Homo sapiens: one gene and its partner. The protein of the gene in region 2 purifies or fractionates together with the protein of the main gene of each other region. This does not show direct contact. Each region holds a gene or a part of one and is shown on either strand. Other genes may lie near its edges.

What was found.
Region 1: the proteins of CAV2 (region 2) and DHCR24 purify together in Homo sapiens (affinity purification with mass spectrometry; 2 studies listed by BioGRID and IntAct, with this or other methods). This does not show direct contact.

What each region holds. Positions count from the first base shown.
Region 1 is NC_000001.11:54,877,196-54,884,195, forward strand, and holds part of DHCR24 (delta(24)-sterol reductase precursor), read right to left. Parts: intron 6,579-7,000; coding exon 6,423-6,578; intron 1-6,422. UniProt on the Homo sapiens protein: Catalyzes the reduction of the delta-24 double bond of sterol intermediates during cholesterol biosynthesis.
Region 2 is NC_000007.14:116,494,694-116,502,833, reverse strand, and holds the start of CAV2 (caveolin-2), read right to left. Parts: upstream 3,097-8,140; 5' UTR 3,053-3,096; coding exon 2,903-3,052; intron 2,789-2,902; exon of another isoform or gene 2,575-2,788; coding exon 2,387-2,574; intron 1-2,386. UniProt on the Homo sapiens protein: May act as a scaffolding protein within caveolar membranes. Interacts directly with G-protein alpha subunits and can functionally regulate their activity.

The sequences.
Region 1 (7,000 bases), on a different chromosome or scaffold from region 2:
GATTTTCCTTTCACACTATTTTGTATGTTTTAAACACAACACACACAAACCAAAAGCATATCTCATTTTCTGTTTTGCCTTTTTAAAATTTAACACTATACTATGACCATCATCTCTTATCATTACACATTCTTGGAACACATGATTTTTAATGTATACATCCCTTGGACTTCTACTTCTAGCCGAAGTGGAATAACAGGAACCACATTTACCCTGCTGCCTGAAAAAAAAACCTGACAAAATATATGAAATAAGAGTTTTCAATGCAGTGGACATAAACAATTAAAGTTAGTGATCCCTCAGAGACAGGAAACAAGGTGAGCTCTGAGGCGGGAGGACTGCTTGAGGCCAGGGGTTCGAGACCAGCCAGGACAACATAGCAAGACCTAAAAATAAAAAAATAAAAAATTATTTTAAAAAAAGGTGAGCTCTAGGGATGGCCCATTTAACTGCCTGGAGTTAGGCAGTGCAGGGAGGGAAACCCAGGTGGTGGAGTCCAGTGGACTTTCTAAGAGTTAAAAAGATGGAGGTGAGGCTGGGCATGGTGGCTCACGCCTGTAATCTCAGCACTTTGGGAGACCGAGGTGGGTGGATCACCTGAGGTCAGGAGTTCAAGACCAGCCCGACAACATGGCAAAAACCTCCCTCTGCTAAAAATACAAAAAATTAGCTGGGTGTGGTGGCAAGCGCCTGTAATCCCACTTACTCAGGAGGCTGAGGCAAGAGAATCACTTGAACCCATGGAGGTTGCAGTGAGCCAAGACTGTACCACTGCACTCCAGCCTGGATGACAGGGCGAGACTCTGTCTCAAAAAAAAAAAAAAAGAGGTGAGAGTTCCAGAAGACCAAGGTGAATACAGTGTGCAGGACAGAGTACTGGAGAGGAGAGAGTTGCACAGAGAAAAAACTGAAGAAATGCAAAAGGCGTCCTTGGGAATTCAACTGAGTACTAATCGGTAAATACACATGAGGCTATTACCTGAGGCTGAAGCCAGGGAAAAAACTGCCAGAAAAGACAACAGGTAATAGGCTAGGCATGGTGGCTCATGCCTATAATCCCAGCACTTTGGGAGGCCAAGGCAGGTGGACCACCTGAGGTCAGGAGTTTGAGACCAGCCTGGCCAACATGATGAAACCCCGCCTCTGCTAAAAAAAAAAAATACAAAAAATTAGCTGGGCGTGGTGGTGGGTGCCTGTAATCCCAGCTACTCAGGAAGCTGAGGCAGGAGAATCACTTGAATCCGGGAGGCGGAGGTTGCAGTGACCCGAGATTGCACCACTGTACTCCAGCCTGGGCAACAAGAGTGAAACTCTGTCTCAAAAAAAAAAAAAAAAAAAAAAAAAAAAAGATAATAGGTAATAGTACCAGGGACTCACACAGGGCAGGAGATAGTGTCTGTTCCCACAAGCCAGACTAGAAAACTTGATGATTCACAGGGCACTGTGTAGAGTACTCAAAATGATCTTGCCTCATAATAAACTCAAGATTAAATACTTCCCTGGCCCCATCTAAAAAATTGAGACCCAGTGGGATCAAACTATTTCCAAGTAACTTAGCTGCCTCCTAGAGCAAAACTCAAAATTTATAGGAACATAAAAATACCCAGCTCCCCAAAAGGTAAAATGTCAGAGTATCACAATGTCAGAATCCAATAGAATTTTACCAGGCATACAGAGGCAGAAAAATTCAACCCATAATGAGAAAAATCAATCAATCAAACAGACCCAGAACTGACATAGATATTAGAATTAGTGAACAGGGACATCAAAACATTTATAATAACTATATTCTCTATATTCGAAAATTTAACTAGAGACATTAAGAATATATTAAAAAGATCCGGCCAGGTGCAATGCCTCACACCTGTAATCCCAGTGCTTTGGGAGGCCAAGCCAGGCAGATCACCTGAGATCAGGAGTTGAAACCAGCCTAGCCAACATGGCGAAACTCCGTCTACTAAAAATACAAAAAAATTAGCCAGGCGCGGTGGTGCGCATCTGTAATCCCAGCTACTCGGGAGGCTGTGACAGGAGAATCGCTGGAACCCAGGAGGTGGAGGTTGCAGTGAGCCGAAATCACGCCACTGCACCCAGTCCAACCTGGAGGACAGAGCAAGACTCCATCTGAAAAAAAAAAAAAAAAAAAAAAAAAAAAAATCCAAATCAAACTTCTGGAAATGAAAACCACAATGTCTGAAATGAAAGATACAATGGATGGCACTAATAGCAAATTAGAAATCGCAGAAGAAAAGATTAGTTAACTTAAATACACAGCAACAGAAACCAACCAAAATGAAAGAGAGGAAAAAAATTTCTTTTAAATGAACAGTGCCTCAATGACCTGAGCTGTAGAACAACTTGAAATGGCCTAGCTGTCTCTAAACTAGATGAGAAAAAGGAGGGGACAGAAAAACAGATGAAGAAATAATGGCCCCCAAATTTCCTGATTTGATGAAAAATTATGCCAAATTCCAAACAAGAATTATGAATAAAACTATACCAAAGCACATCATAATAAAATTGCTCAAAACTAGTGATAAAAAATCAACATACTTCTAAATAATCCATGGGTCAAAGCAGACATCAAAAGGGAAATCAAAGTATTCTGAACTGAAATAAAAAGAAAACATATAGAAATTTGTGAGCTGCCTCTAAAACAGTGCTTAGGGGAAAATTTATAGCACTAAACATTTATATTAGAAAAAAAAGGTCTAAGTCAATGACTTAAACTTTAACCTTAAAAAACTGGAAAAAGAGTAAAATTAAACCCAATGTAAGAAAAGAAATGAAATAATAAAGACCAAAGCAGAAATCAATGAAATTGAAAACAACACACACACACAAAGGGAAAAATCAATGATATCAAAGCTAGCTTTTGAGAAGATCAATAAAATTCAATAGCCTTTAGCCAGACTGTTCAGGAAAAAAAGAGAACAGAAACAAAATACCAGTATCAAGAACGAAAGACCTGACATAGCTACAGATATCTAAAGGAAGTATTGTGAACAACTTTATGTCAATAAATTATACAACTTAGTGAAATGGACAAATACCTTTGAGACACAAACTACCAAAGCTAACCCAAGAAGAAATAAATAAACTGAAGAGCCCAGTACCTATTAAAGAAATTGAATTTGTGCTTAAAAACTTCCTTACAAAGAAAACTCCAGGCCCAGAGAGCTTCACTTTAAGGTTTCTATAAAAATTCTACAATAAAATATAGGAGAAAGCCTTTCTGACATTGGATAGGCAAAGATTTCCTAAATAAAATATCAAAATGCAAAGTAGGCCAAGCGCGGTGGCTCACGCCTGTAATCCCAGCACTTTGGGAGGCCAAGGTAGGTGGATCATTTGAGGCCAGGAGTTCGAAACCAGCCTGACCAATGTGGTGAAACCCCCTCTCTATTAAAAATACAAAAATTAACCAGGTGTGGTGGTGTGCACCTGTAATCCCAGCTACTTGGGAGGCTGAGGCACAAGAATTGCTTGAAACCGGGAGATGGAGGTTGCCGAGAACTGAGATAGCACCACTGCACTCCAGCCGGGGCCACAGAGCTAGACTCTGTCTCAAAAAACAAAAATATAAACAAACAAACAAACAAACAAACAAAACCCCCACAATGCATAAAAGAAGAAATTAACAAATTGGGAAAAATTAAAACTTCTGATTTGGCCAGGCGTGGTGGCTCACGCCTGTAATTCTAGCACTTTGGGAGGCCAAGGCAGGCAGATCACCTGAGGTCAAGAGTTTGAGACCAGCCTGGCCAACATGGTGAAACCCCGTCTCTACTAAAAATACAAAAAATTAGCTGGGTGTGGTGGCACATGCCTGTACTCCCAGCTACCCAGGAGGCTGAGGCAGGAGAATCACCGGAACCTGGGAGGCGGAGGCTGCAGTGAACCAAGATCGTGCCACTGCACTCTAGCCAGGGCGACAGAGTGAAACTCTGTCTCAAAAAGAAAAACTAAATAAAGCTTCTGGTTTTCAAAAGAGAAGCCACAGACTGTGAGAAAATATTTGCAAATCATGAATCTAATAAAGGATGTTGTTTCAGGGTCTAATATCCAGCATCAATAAGGAACTTAAACAAACTTACAAGAACAAAACAACCCCCATTAAAAAGTGAATATAAAAAGGACATGAACAGACACTTTTCAAAAGACAAGCATGTGGCCAAGAAGCATATGAAAAAAAGCTCAACATTACTGATAATTAAAGAAATGCAAATCAAAACCACAATGAAATACCATCTGACACAGTCAGAATGGCTATTATTAAAAAGTCAAAAAATAACAGATGCTGGTGAAGTTGCAGAGAAAAAGGAACATTTATACACTGTTGGTGGGAGTGTAAATTAGTTCAACCATGTGGGAGACAGTGTGGTGATTCCTTAAAGACCAAAAAACAGAAGCAGCATTTGACCCAGCAATCTCATTACTGGGTATATATACCCAAAGGAATATAAACCATTGTATCATAAAGACACATGCATGTGTATGTTTACTGCAGCACAACTCACAATAGCAAAGACATGGAATCAACTTAAATGCCCATCAGTGGTAGACTGGATAAAGAAAATGTGGTACGTATACACCATGGAATACTATGCAGCCATGTTCCTTTGCAAGAACATGGATGCAGCTGGAAGCCATTATCCTTAGCAAACTAATGCAGGAACAGGAAACCAAATACCGCATGTTCTCACTTATAAGTGGGAGCTAAATGATGAGAACACATGGACACATACAGGGGAACAACAGACACTGGGTCCTATCAGAGGGTGGAGGGAGGGAGAAGGGAGAGGATCAGGAAAAATAACTAATAGGTACTAGGCTTAATACCTGGGTGATGAAATAATATGTACAACAAACCCCATGACACACGTTTACCTATATAACAAACCTGTACAGGTACCACTTAATTTAAAAGTTTAAAAGAAAAAAAAAAAAGATGTTTCCAGAATATATAAGAAAACCACCTGAATTTTTTTAAATTGGCAAAAGATTTGATCAGGCCTCACCAAAGAAGATATACAAATAGCAAACATGCACATGGAAAGATCATTAGTCACTAGGGAAATGTGAATTAAAATTACAATGAAAAACTACTACACATCTATTAGAATGGCTAAAATTAAGACTAACCATATCAAGTCTATTACAATGTGGAACAAGAACAACACTCACGCTGCTGGTGGAAATGTAAAATGCTACAATCACTTGGAAAAAAAATTTGGCACTTCCTTAAAAAGTTAAATGTACACCCACCTTATGATCTAGCCATTCCATTCCTAGATATTTGCCCAAGAGAAAGGAAGGCATGTGCCCATACAAAGACTGTTCACAAATGTTCCATTTTATTTGTAATTGCCCCAAACTGGAGCCAGCCAAAATGTCCATCAGTAGGTGAATGGATAAACCAGCTGTGATACATCCACACAATATGTGTGGGAATATGACTCAGCAGTGAAAGAGAATGAACTATTGACACACCTTTCAACATGGATGAATCTCCAAATAAAGATGTTGAGTGAAAGAGGCTAGACAAACAAAAAGTACTGTATGATTCCATTTATATAAACTCTAGAATCAAACTAATTTATAGTGGCAGAAAGGTCATTGTTTGCCTAAGGCTGTGGGGGGCGGGTAGGGGAAGAGGCAGGGCTAGGGGCTAGAGGAAGGGATTACCAAGGAGCATGAGGAGATTTTGGGGTGTGATGGGTATGTTTGTTGTCTTGATTGTGGTAAGAGTTTTACCACACTTTAAATACGTCAATAAAGCTATTAAAAAAAATGGCACAGAGAGATTAAGTAACTTGGCCAAGGTCTCACAATAATAACAAAATGCCATCAAGTAGACATACCATATTTAATGACTACCCTATTATTGGATATTGTGTTGTTGTCAATTAGAAATAAAGCTGTGATATAATCACTCTGTGTTGGGTATCTTTATACTGAAGCCTATTTCCTTTTTCCTTAAGCCAGGTTTCGAGAAGTAAAATTACTAGATGGGCCAAAAAGTATGTACATTTCGAAGGCTATTAAACAAGAGGGTTTCCAGGAAGCTTGTAACAAGACCCATGTCTCTCAGTCACTTCTGTAGCCCATTTTTTACCAGCACACTTCCTTATCAGGAAGGGGTAAGTAGATTCCTTTTTGCCTCTCATTTTTGCTCACGAATTCCCCATTCCTGACTTCCTGTGGAAACGCAAAGGGTTCCCCTGACCTATTATGACCCATCTCTCCCCTGGTGGCTGTGAGGCTTGAGGACAGCAATGGCAGGGAGTATCTTCTATGACTGTGGGCATTGGTCCTGTCCACTCTGCAATGCCCTTGGCTAAAATCATCTCCCTATGAGTCACTTGCACCAGGGGCAGTGCCCCACCTGCTCCCAGAGCCCGGAAAAGTGCTACTCTCACCTGTTTCTTGGTGTCCACTTCCAGAATGTCCATCAGGTTGATCATGATGTTTTTGTGTGTCTTCTTGTACTTCCCGACACGTAGTGAGACAGTGAGCCAGCCAGGGCGCCCCGTGCACATGAAGGTCTTGCTACCCTGCTCCTTCCATTCCCGCACCTGCAACCACAGGACAGAGGGTGAGCTGGCCCCACTGGGAATCCCCAGAGCAGCCTGCAGCCCTGCTTTCTTCAAGGGCGAGCTGGGAATGATGCCTCCATCAGGCACTGGAGAAACAGAACAATGAAAAGGCCTGCTGGCCCTACCCTCTGGCACCTCCCTGGCCAGCAAGGCTGACAGAAAAGCCAACATATTGCTACACCACAAGGCAGAATGATGAAAGAGCTAGAAGAGAGGATCGAAGTGTTCTGAAAACATTAACTCTAGCTGGGAAGTTCAGAAAAGGTTTTGTAATGGTGATAATAGCAAGTATAAAAATGAGGACCATTTACTGGGTATTCCCAACACACTAGGCATCTACTGCACACTGTCTTGTGTAATTCCTACAACAGTCCCAGGAAGTTACGATGACACCCTTTTTT
Region 2 (8,140 bases):
CTAATTCACTGATTCCTAATGGCCCGTACTTCTGGTCTAGGATCCAACACCACCAGACTTCTGTGTTTTATTGTTGTTGATTGTTTGTTTAAAGGATCTAAAATCTGACCTGTTTTAATATTGTGACATGGTTCAAAGTTCCACTACTGCATATTTTCCTAGCTTTGGTCACCACTAACTTTTTGGTAAAAACAATACACAAGCCCCTGCTTTAAAAAATATATATAAAAAGAAAACAAAACAAAAAAAGCTTGCCCAAATGGGTTTGCAATTCTGTAAGGTCTGTCCTTGATCTGGTCTTATCATGTCATGGGAATGCAATCTATTAATGATAAACCTATTTTATCAAGGCATAGCTAACTTTTAAGCATTCTTGTTTGAAATTACTCCTCTACTTGCAATCACAGCTGCCTGGTGACAAATGTTTTACAGTTAAATATTAATGCCCCACATAAATATAGTTAAAAAAACAAGCTGAAGTTAAATAATATTAAATAATACATTTTATGTGGCTAAAAAAAGGTGCATTGATGATTCACCAATTGAAGCACTATACAAAAACACCTCCCATTCTCAGAAGAGCCAGCTGGAGAGAGGCATTGCTTGGTTAATTGTAGTTTTACTTATATCTTTCCACCACTTAGTAAATGAGAAACTTTTTTTTTTCAAATTCTTTCACAAAAGCTTTGGGAAGCCTAGCTTTGTTGACTATAAATATGGTACTTCACATTTCCAAATAGCTTCATAGTCAGCATTTCACAATATGCTATGCGGTCACTCAGTTTTTCACAGTTTTGAAAGTGAGAAAACTGACATAGAGGTTAGATGATTAGTTTTAGTTAATTGGGAATCCCAAATCTTATGTGCCAACTCAGGGATCTTAAAAAAAATTCAAGTGCAAATGTCAGAATATAACTATCCATTTGACCTTCATGAAGCTGATCATGTACTAAGGCAACATTTTCATTTCCCTGGCAATCTTGGCACCTTCAACATAGTTTAATTGTTTACAACCTTTAGTGATAAAATTAAATTGGTGTTCTTTGTGTATCCTTTACGTATTTGGTGAATTTTCATTTATCCTTTCAAAGTCTTTTTCGACTCCTTTCACTCTTCAAAGCCTTGTCTGTTCCTCCCTCTTTGTCAGTTGACTGTGTTTTCTCAGCGTCCATCTCTGTACCTAGCCAGCTGCCCTGATAAGGCTGTGAGTAAGCTGAAGGCAGACCCTATCTCTCATTCATCCTGGCCCAGTGCCCAGCACAAACTAAGCACTCAATCAATTTAAAGTTTGTTGAACTAACTAGCTAGCTAACTGACTAAATAAATTAAGATTCAGGTGGTATAGAGAAATAAAGGATAAATTGGTAACTTCTAACAATGAACACCGAGTATTTATCAGGGTGTGGCAATATCATAAAAGGTGTAAGAAAGACACGGAGGTACCTTGGGTTATACCTTTCACCAGGACTAACCTGAAGCACTAGCGTGACAACTGTTGTGATACTGGGGATGATCTGAATATTCTTCCTCTCAGATTAAAGTGGATATTTTCTAACACAACAACATTTATTGGTAAAATATGACATTTTCCATAAAAAATTTAAAAGATGCTTAAGAAAGTTCTCTACAGTTTAGGACACATTTTGAGTATGAATAGAGTTACTCAAAATATCCTATCAATATACAGTGGGCTTCCATATTTCTTTCCCCTTTAATTATATGCCACTTCCATTTGTGTTTCATCAGTGAAAAAGTAATTTGGAGGCCTTCTCATTCATTATCCCGCAGCTGGAGTTTTCATTCGTTTGTACTGGGGGGGACCCTCGCCTTAACTGCACACACCTCCCTTTCCTCTGGGTCCCATCCTTGCCATCTGCCAGGGGCAAAGTTGAAGCAGCCCCTCCACACTACTGCTTAACCAGGTCTGACATCCTCATCCAATTCTACTGTCAGCGGCATTCTGCTCAGAGATCACTTTTGTTTTACCCCAAGCACAGGCAGTGACTGAATAAAAGGCAATGAAAGAAAGAAGAGTCCTGCCCAGAACCGCAGGTACGAGTCACAACAGGGCCCCGAGAGCAGCCTGTGGTAAGAAGTGTGGCTTCCAGGTACCCGCCTCCACACTCAGCCCAGCCTTATGTATGCAAGGAAAATCACACCCCAGGAAAGACCGACATTCTTTCTCCTGTTGAAACTCCAAGCCCAAACTGTTATTCTAAAGGAAGCGCATTGCCTTTCAAGGCCTTCCAGTTCTTCCTACTGCTTGGGAACTGATGCGCGTTCCTCCTCCTGACGCCGGCCTGGGATAAGAGGAGAGTAGGGGGCAGGTGGCGGAGAATATGCCCATGTTTCAGAAAGCCGGTCCACCCGGTGTGCCCCGTCTCACCAGATGTGCAGACAGCTGAGGGTGGCAAAGAGAATTCCCGCAATGAAGGCCAGGGGAATGGCCAGGAACACCGTCAGGAACTTGTACATTACGTATTTGCTGATTTCAAAGAGGGCATGGCTGCAGATCCACACTTTGTCAAAGGAGTGCGTAGTCACCGGCTCTGCGATCACATCCTCGAAGCCCAGCTGAGGAGACAGGACGCAGGGACCCCGAACTGTCAGCCAACCTGACGCCCCGGGAACCGGGAGCGCTTTGGGCGGGGGAAGCAGGAGGGAAGGACGTGCCAGGGCGTCCGCCTCTTCTCTTAGGGTCACGGTGGGCGCACAGGAACCTGGCTAAGAATTCCTGGCTACGCGGGCGGCCTGGTGACGGGTGGGACCGGGGAAGGGTGCGGGTCTCAGACCCTGCGGGGCCGACCCGGTAGCAATGGTGGGACGGGTTAGGGCGGGGCTGAGGGGCGCCCGCACCTCCCGGCCTCAGCGGGGACTTGGGCCCGCCCGCCCCGGGCTTCACCTTGAGATGCGAGTTGAGCCGGTGGGGATCCCGGTCCTGGTCCGAGTCCGCGAACTTCTCGGGGTCGGCGTACTCGAGGCCGCTGTGGTGGCTGTAGGAGTCGTCGTCCATGAAGAGCTGTACGTCCGCCTTCTCCGTCTCCAGCCCCATCGCAGCCTTGGTGCGCGGCCGCTGCAGCCCGGCTGGCGCGGTGCGGCTCCCGGTCCGCGCGGCCTCCCCTTCCCGTAGCGCCCGGCCCCGCCCCCCCTCGCCTCGCCTAGCCCTGCGAGGCCCGGGCGGCGGCCGCTTCCCGCTGTGGGCTCCAGCTCCCAGCCCGGCCGTCCCGAGCCCCGCCCCGGCGCCCCGCCGCCCCTCCCCGCCCACCTCCCCCGCCGGGGCGCAGGGAACCGTCCCCACGAGTCACAGCCCGGGCCCTGCAGTGGGCGGCGACGCCGGCAGCTGGGACGAGGAGGGCCTCCTGGTCACCCTTCTGGGGGCCCGTACTGTCATGCCTCAGAGCTGGCAAGTCGTCCCAGGGAAGACAACGGCCTTCCTGGAGGGAGGGAACCTTGTGGTTAGGCGCATGGGGTGCGAAGCAGGTATGTGCTCACCTCCGGCTGTGTTTGCCTTGCGTGCTGCGGCTCATGGTGCTGGTATTGAGCCTCTGGGAACCTCAGCTGCCTCGTTGGCAAAATGGGGGCTGTGGCATCTGTTTCAGGGGTGTCCGTGAGAATTAAATGTTAATTTCACATAAAATTCTAACACACATGGCCCATGGCCCGTAACACACAGTGATAAACTTCCAATCAACGTTGTTGCTGCTGTCGTGAGAGGTAAGGAGCCACAATGTACCTGAGTGCTAGGTACCTGAGTGCTAGGTGACCTGCAAGTGCATGTGGAGTTGGGTAGGCGAACGCCCTGGCCCTAGAGTTTGTGCCTTCAGATCTGAGGTGTGAGGGGAGATCTGATTTTTTTTTTTTTTTTTTTTTTACTTCCTAAACTACACCGTGTGTGTGTGTGTGTGTGTGTTTGTGTGTGTGTGGCAGAGTTTCGCTCTTGTTGCCCAGGCTGGAGTGCAATGGCACGATCTCGGCTCATCGCAACCTCTGCCTCCCGGGTTCAAGCGATTCTCCTGCCTCAGCCTCCCGAGTAGCTGGGATTACAGGCATGCACCACCACGCCTGGCTAATTTTGTATTTTTAGCAGAGACGGGGTTTCCCCATGTTGGTCAGGCTGGTTTCGAACTCCCAACCTCAGGTGATCCGCCCGCCTCGGCCTCCCAAAGTGCTGGGATTGCAGGCGTGAGCCACCGCGCCCGACCTCCACCTTTTAATTTTCTTGTGAACCAGACTGTCTTGAAAGATTCAGGAACTTCTAAGATGCAGTCACATCTGTGATTATCTTGCAGGCAGCACGGAAACAGAACCCTAACACAAAGCCACATTGCAATGGATGAATTAGCCTGCTGACCACTCACGCAAAGGTTTTCAGAAGGGAGGAGTTTGCATGTTCATAAAGGGCTTTAGGGTCTGGTAGACATATACGTGTGTTTGGGGAGGAAGGGCACTTAGTGAAAATTTGCCAAAAGCAAAACAATGAGAACTAGGCTTGAGGTGCAGGTTGCTCAGAGCTCAAAGTAGGCATGTAGTAGGTATTGCTGGATACAGTGTATTTGGAGCTTGTTGAACATATCAAATCCCCTTATGTGAACTGGATTTGAAGAATTGCTTCTTCCGAAAGAAAAAAGATCATTTTTGAAACAGTAAAAATTACAGAAATAAAAAAGAACAGGAACTGAATGAGAAAAATGTTTGGGGGTGGGAGGCAAAGTTCAATATTTCTAATAATTAAAAAGTTTCCCTGCTGCTACCTCAGTATATGAAGGGCAGTGTTGTAACCCTATAGGGTGTTACAGAGTTGACTCTCATGGCTATGGAGCCCCTCCTCTCCCAGACATCACCCTGCTTACCCATTCCCTTCTTTTTTACGTATCTTTCTCATTTTTATTTATGTTCAGTCAATTCCAAAGTGATGACTTAGACATTCTACTCATTGCATTTTCTCTGCTTCTCCACCTTGTCCATTCTCCTGATGAGAATTGGAACTCTTCTAGAATTGTTGCCCAACAACTGTTCATTAAAGTGAATAGAAGACATGAATCCTTATGGGAATCCATAATATCAACTGTGAGGAACAGAAAAAAAAAGGAGATAATTTACAGCCAAATACCATTTTATAATTATAATTCAAAATTATAATCCCAGATTTCAAGGTCTCACCCAAAGAAGAAAGTCACTGCCCTAGTACAAGAGTGGGCTTATGTAGTGGGTAAAAATCTGACATTAGCACTTCTTACCTTATAATTCTTGGTCCTCATTACATTTACATTTTCCATGGGATTATTAGGACATTTGAGAGTTATCACAAATAATTGATTTGTTTTCAGGAAGTGGCCAAGAGGACTCTTTAGACAACAGCTTCATTCGTAAAATGATAGGTATTTAAGAAAGGTGTCTCTAAATCCCATCTAAATGAGACCCATCTAGATTTGTTGTATGGAGCACAGAACTTGAAAGGAGAGGATTCATTTATTCATCCATTTGTAATTTTTTATTGAACAATCTTCTCTCCCTTGGGTCAGATCTGGTGAGGTTCTTATTTTGATGAAATTCTTATACATTTCAACATTTTAATACATAAGATTTTTTGAAGGAAGCTATAAAAATGATTTTGCTTATCCTATTGGCCAGTATTTAGATAAGGTTAGTGATATGGCTTGGATTTGTGTCCCTGCCCGAATCTCATGTGGAACTGTAATCCCCAGTGTTGGAGGTGGGGCTTGGTGGGAGGTAGAGATTAGATCATGGGGGCAGAGTTCTTAGGAATGGTTTAGCAACCACCCCCACTGCCACCCCTGCCCCCCGACCCCGCAGTTGGTACTGTATAGTGAGTGAGTTCTCATTAGATCTCGTCCTTCAAAAGTGTGTGGCACCTCCCCCTCACCTTTCTTTGGCTCCTTCTGTGGCCACGTGAGGTGATACTCCCTGTTTACCTTCCGCCATGATTGTAAGTTTCCTGAGGCCTCCCCAGAAGCTGAGCAGATGCCATCATAATGCTTCCTGTACAGCTAGTGGAACTGTGAGCCAACTAAACCTCTTTTCTTTATAGATTACCCAGTCTCAGGTATTTCTTTATAGCAGTGTGAGAACGGACTAATATAGTTAGCTACTGTTTTTCTCAAGAGGCTTAAACCAGAGTGATTCCCACAGCAATGGCATCTGTCCTTATGAACATAAAGGAAAATTTACCAGGAAAGGGAAAAGAAAGGGGGTGGGTGGGTGCTAAATGGCTGAACACATTCTAGTGTCTTCTGGATCACAGAATTACTCTCCAATAAGCACCTCCTACAGAGTTTACGTGCCCTGTAATCCAGAGAAATTAAAAAAATTATAATAAATTCCTACTGGTGCATTTATCTTCTGACTTATTATGTATCATAGCTTCTGATAAGAGGGCTGTTTTTTAGATGGTGTATTAATATATTTTAGAAATAACAGTCTGATAATAGATTAGAATTTGTGAGAAGGATAGTTTATAACCATTTTGTTACTCACTTCTTTCAGCACAGTGTCAATGGAAGAAGGTTATTTTTCTGGAGCATTGAAAATTGTATGGCAATGCTCTTATGAATAAAAATATCTAATTTTTTCCCTTCAGCTTTTTTTCCTTTTCAAATCACAAATGTGTCATATTTTTTTCCCTGTATAACGCACATGCAATTTTAGTCAGGGTCTGTTTTTCAAACTGCCTTTGAGCAAATTGGTATTAACGAAAATGCAGTAATAAATTCTTGATCTCACCATATGTTTTAATAATATTCAGAGTGTTCAGATTAGACCAGAGTTTCTCAATCTCAACCCTGTTGGCATTTTGGGCCAGATCATTTTTCCTTGAGAGACTGTCCAGTGCATTGTAGGATGTTTAGCAACATCCTTGGCATCTATCCACTAGATACCTATAACACTCCCAGTCATGACAACCAAAATGTTTCCAAATGTTGCCAAATGTCCTCTGGGGGGCAAAATCACCTTTCTCCTTCTTTCCCAGGCTGAGAACCACTGAATAAGACAATGTTGAAACAGTGCTGTGTGAATTAGAAAAATTAAGCTCCAGCTCTTCATTTACAAATCCATGCTTAGAAATCTCAGAGTTGTATCACCAATGTATTAGAAACTCCAGGGCTAGGCCTGGCACAGTGGCTTACACCTATAATCCCAGCTCTCTGGGTGGCTGAGGAGGGAGACATAGTGAGACCCAGTCTCTACAAAAAATAAAAAAAAAACTAGCCAGGTGTAGTGAGAGATGCCTGTAGTCCTAGCTACTACAAGAGGATTTCTTGAGCCCAGGAGTTTGAGATTGTAGACTGGAGTTTGAGGGCACAGAGCAAGGCCCATCTTAAAAAAAAAAATAGAAAGAAACTCCACGTCTTTTTGAAATTAAACTTAAGAATATTTGTTTGTCATGTAAAATGTTCAGAAGAACCCATTATCATTGACTAATTGCAATTTTTTCAATACAATGTTGGTATTAATTAATGAATACATATTAACCCCCACCCCCTTCCCCTAGAGATCAAAAGGAAGCAACTGCCAAGGCCTCAAGCTCTGTCTACCTTGCCTGGCCTCCTATACTTTCCTCACAAAGGTTAGGATTGTTTAAATGATTATATCTGGAAAAATACAGGCTTGGGACTTCTTGATCTGTAAGATTCTCTCTTAAAGCTATAAAATTCAGTGATTTTTGACAATCTTCAGCAAGTGAATAGCTTTTGCAATTTTAAGTAACCTTAACTGAGAAATCCATGGACTTGTTAGTGGGAGAGCCGGGCAGTTGCTTACCAGGTTCTTCAAGCATCCCCTCCTAGGCTTGCTTACTGTTAGCAAGGACAAAGCTTGAGAAATTTGGAAGGACCTGCTGTTTCTGGCATAAGCCACTCTCTCTGTGGCTTTACATAAACTATTGCTTGCATAACTCCTGTACCCTACTGCTTTATCAATGCATCTTTTAATTTCCTCCTTCTACCCTCCAACTCACACTCAACCACTATCTGCCCCCCACCTCCAACTGTCCCCCCACCCCCCCCAATACAGAGGACATTTCCTCCACAAAATGTTTAAAGGAATAGACAAAAATGTCTGCTATTAAAGTTAGTCAATAATCAACTTTGCGGAGTGGTGCCAGATGGTTGCATGGTATTTA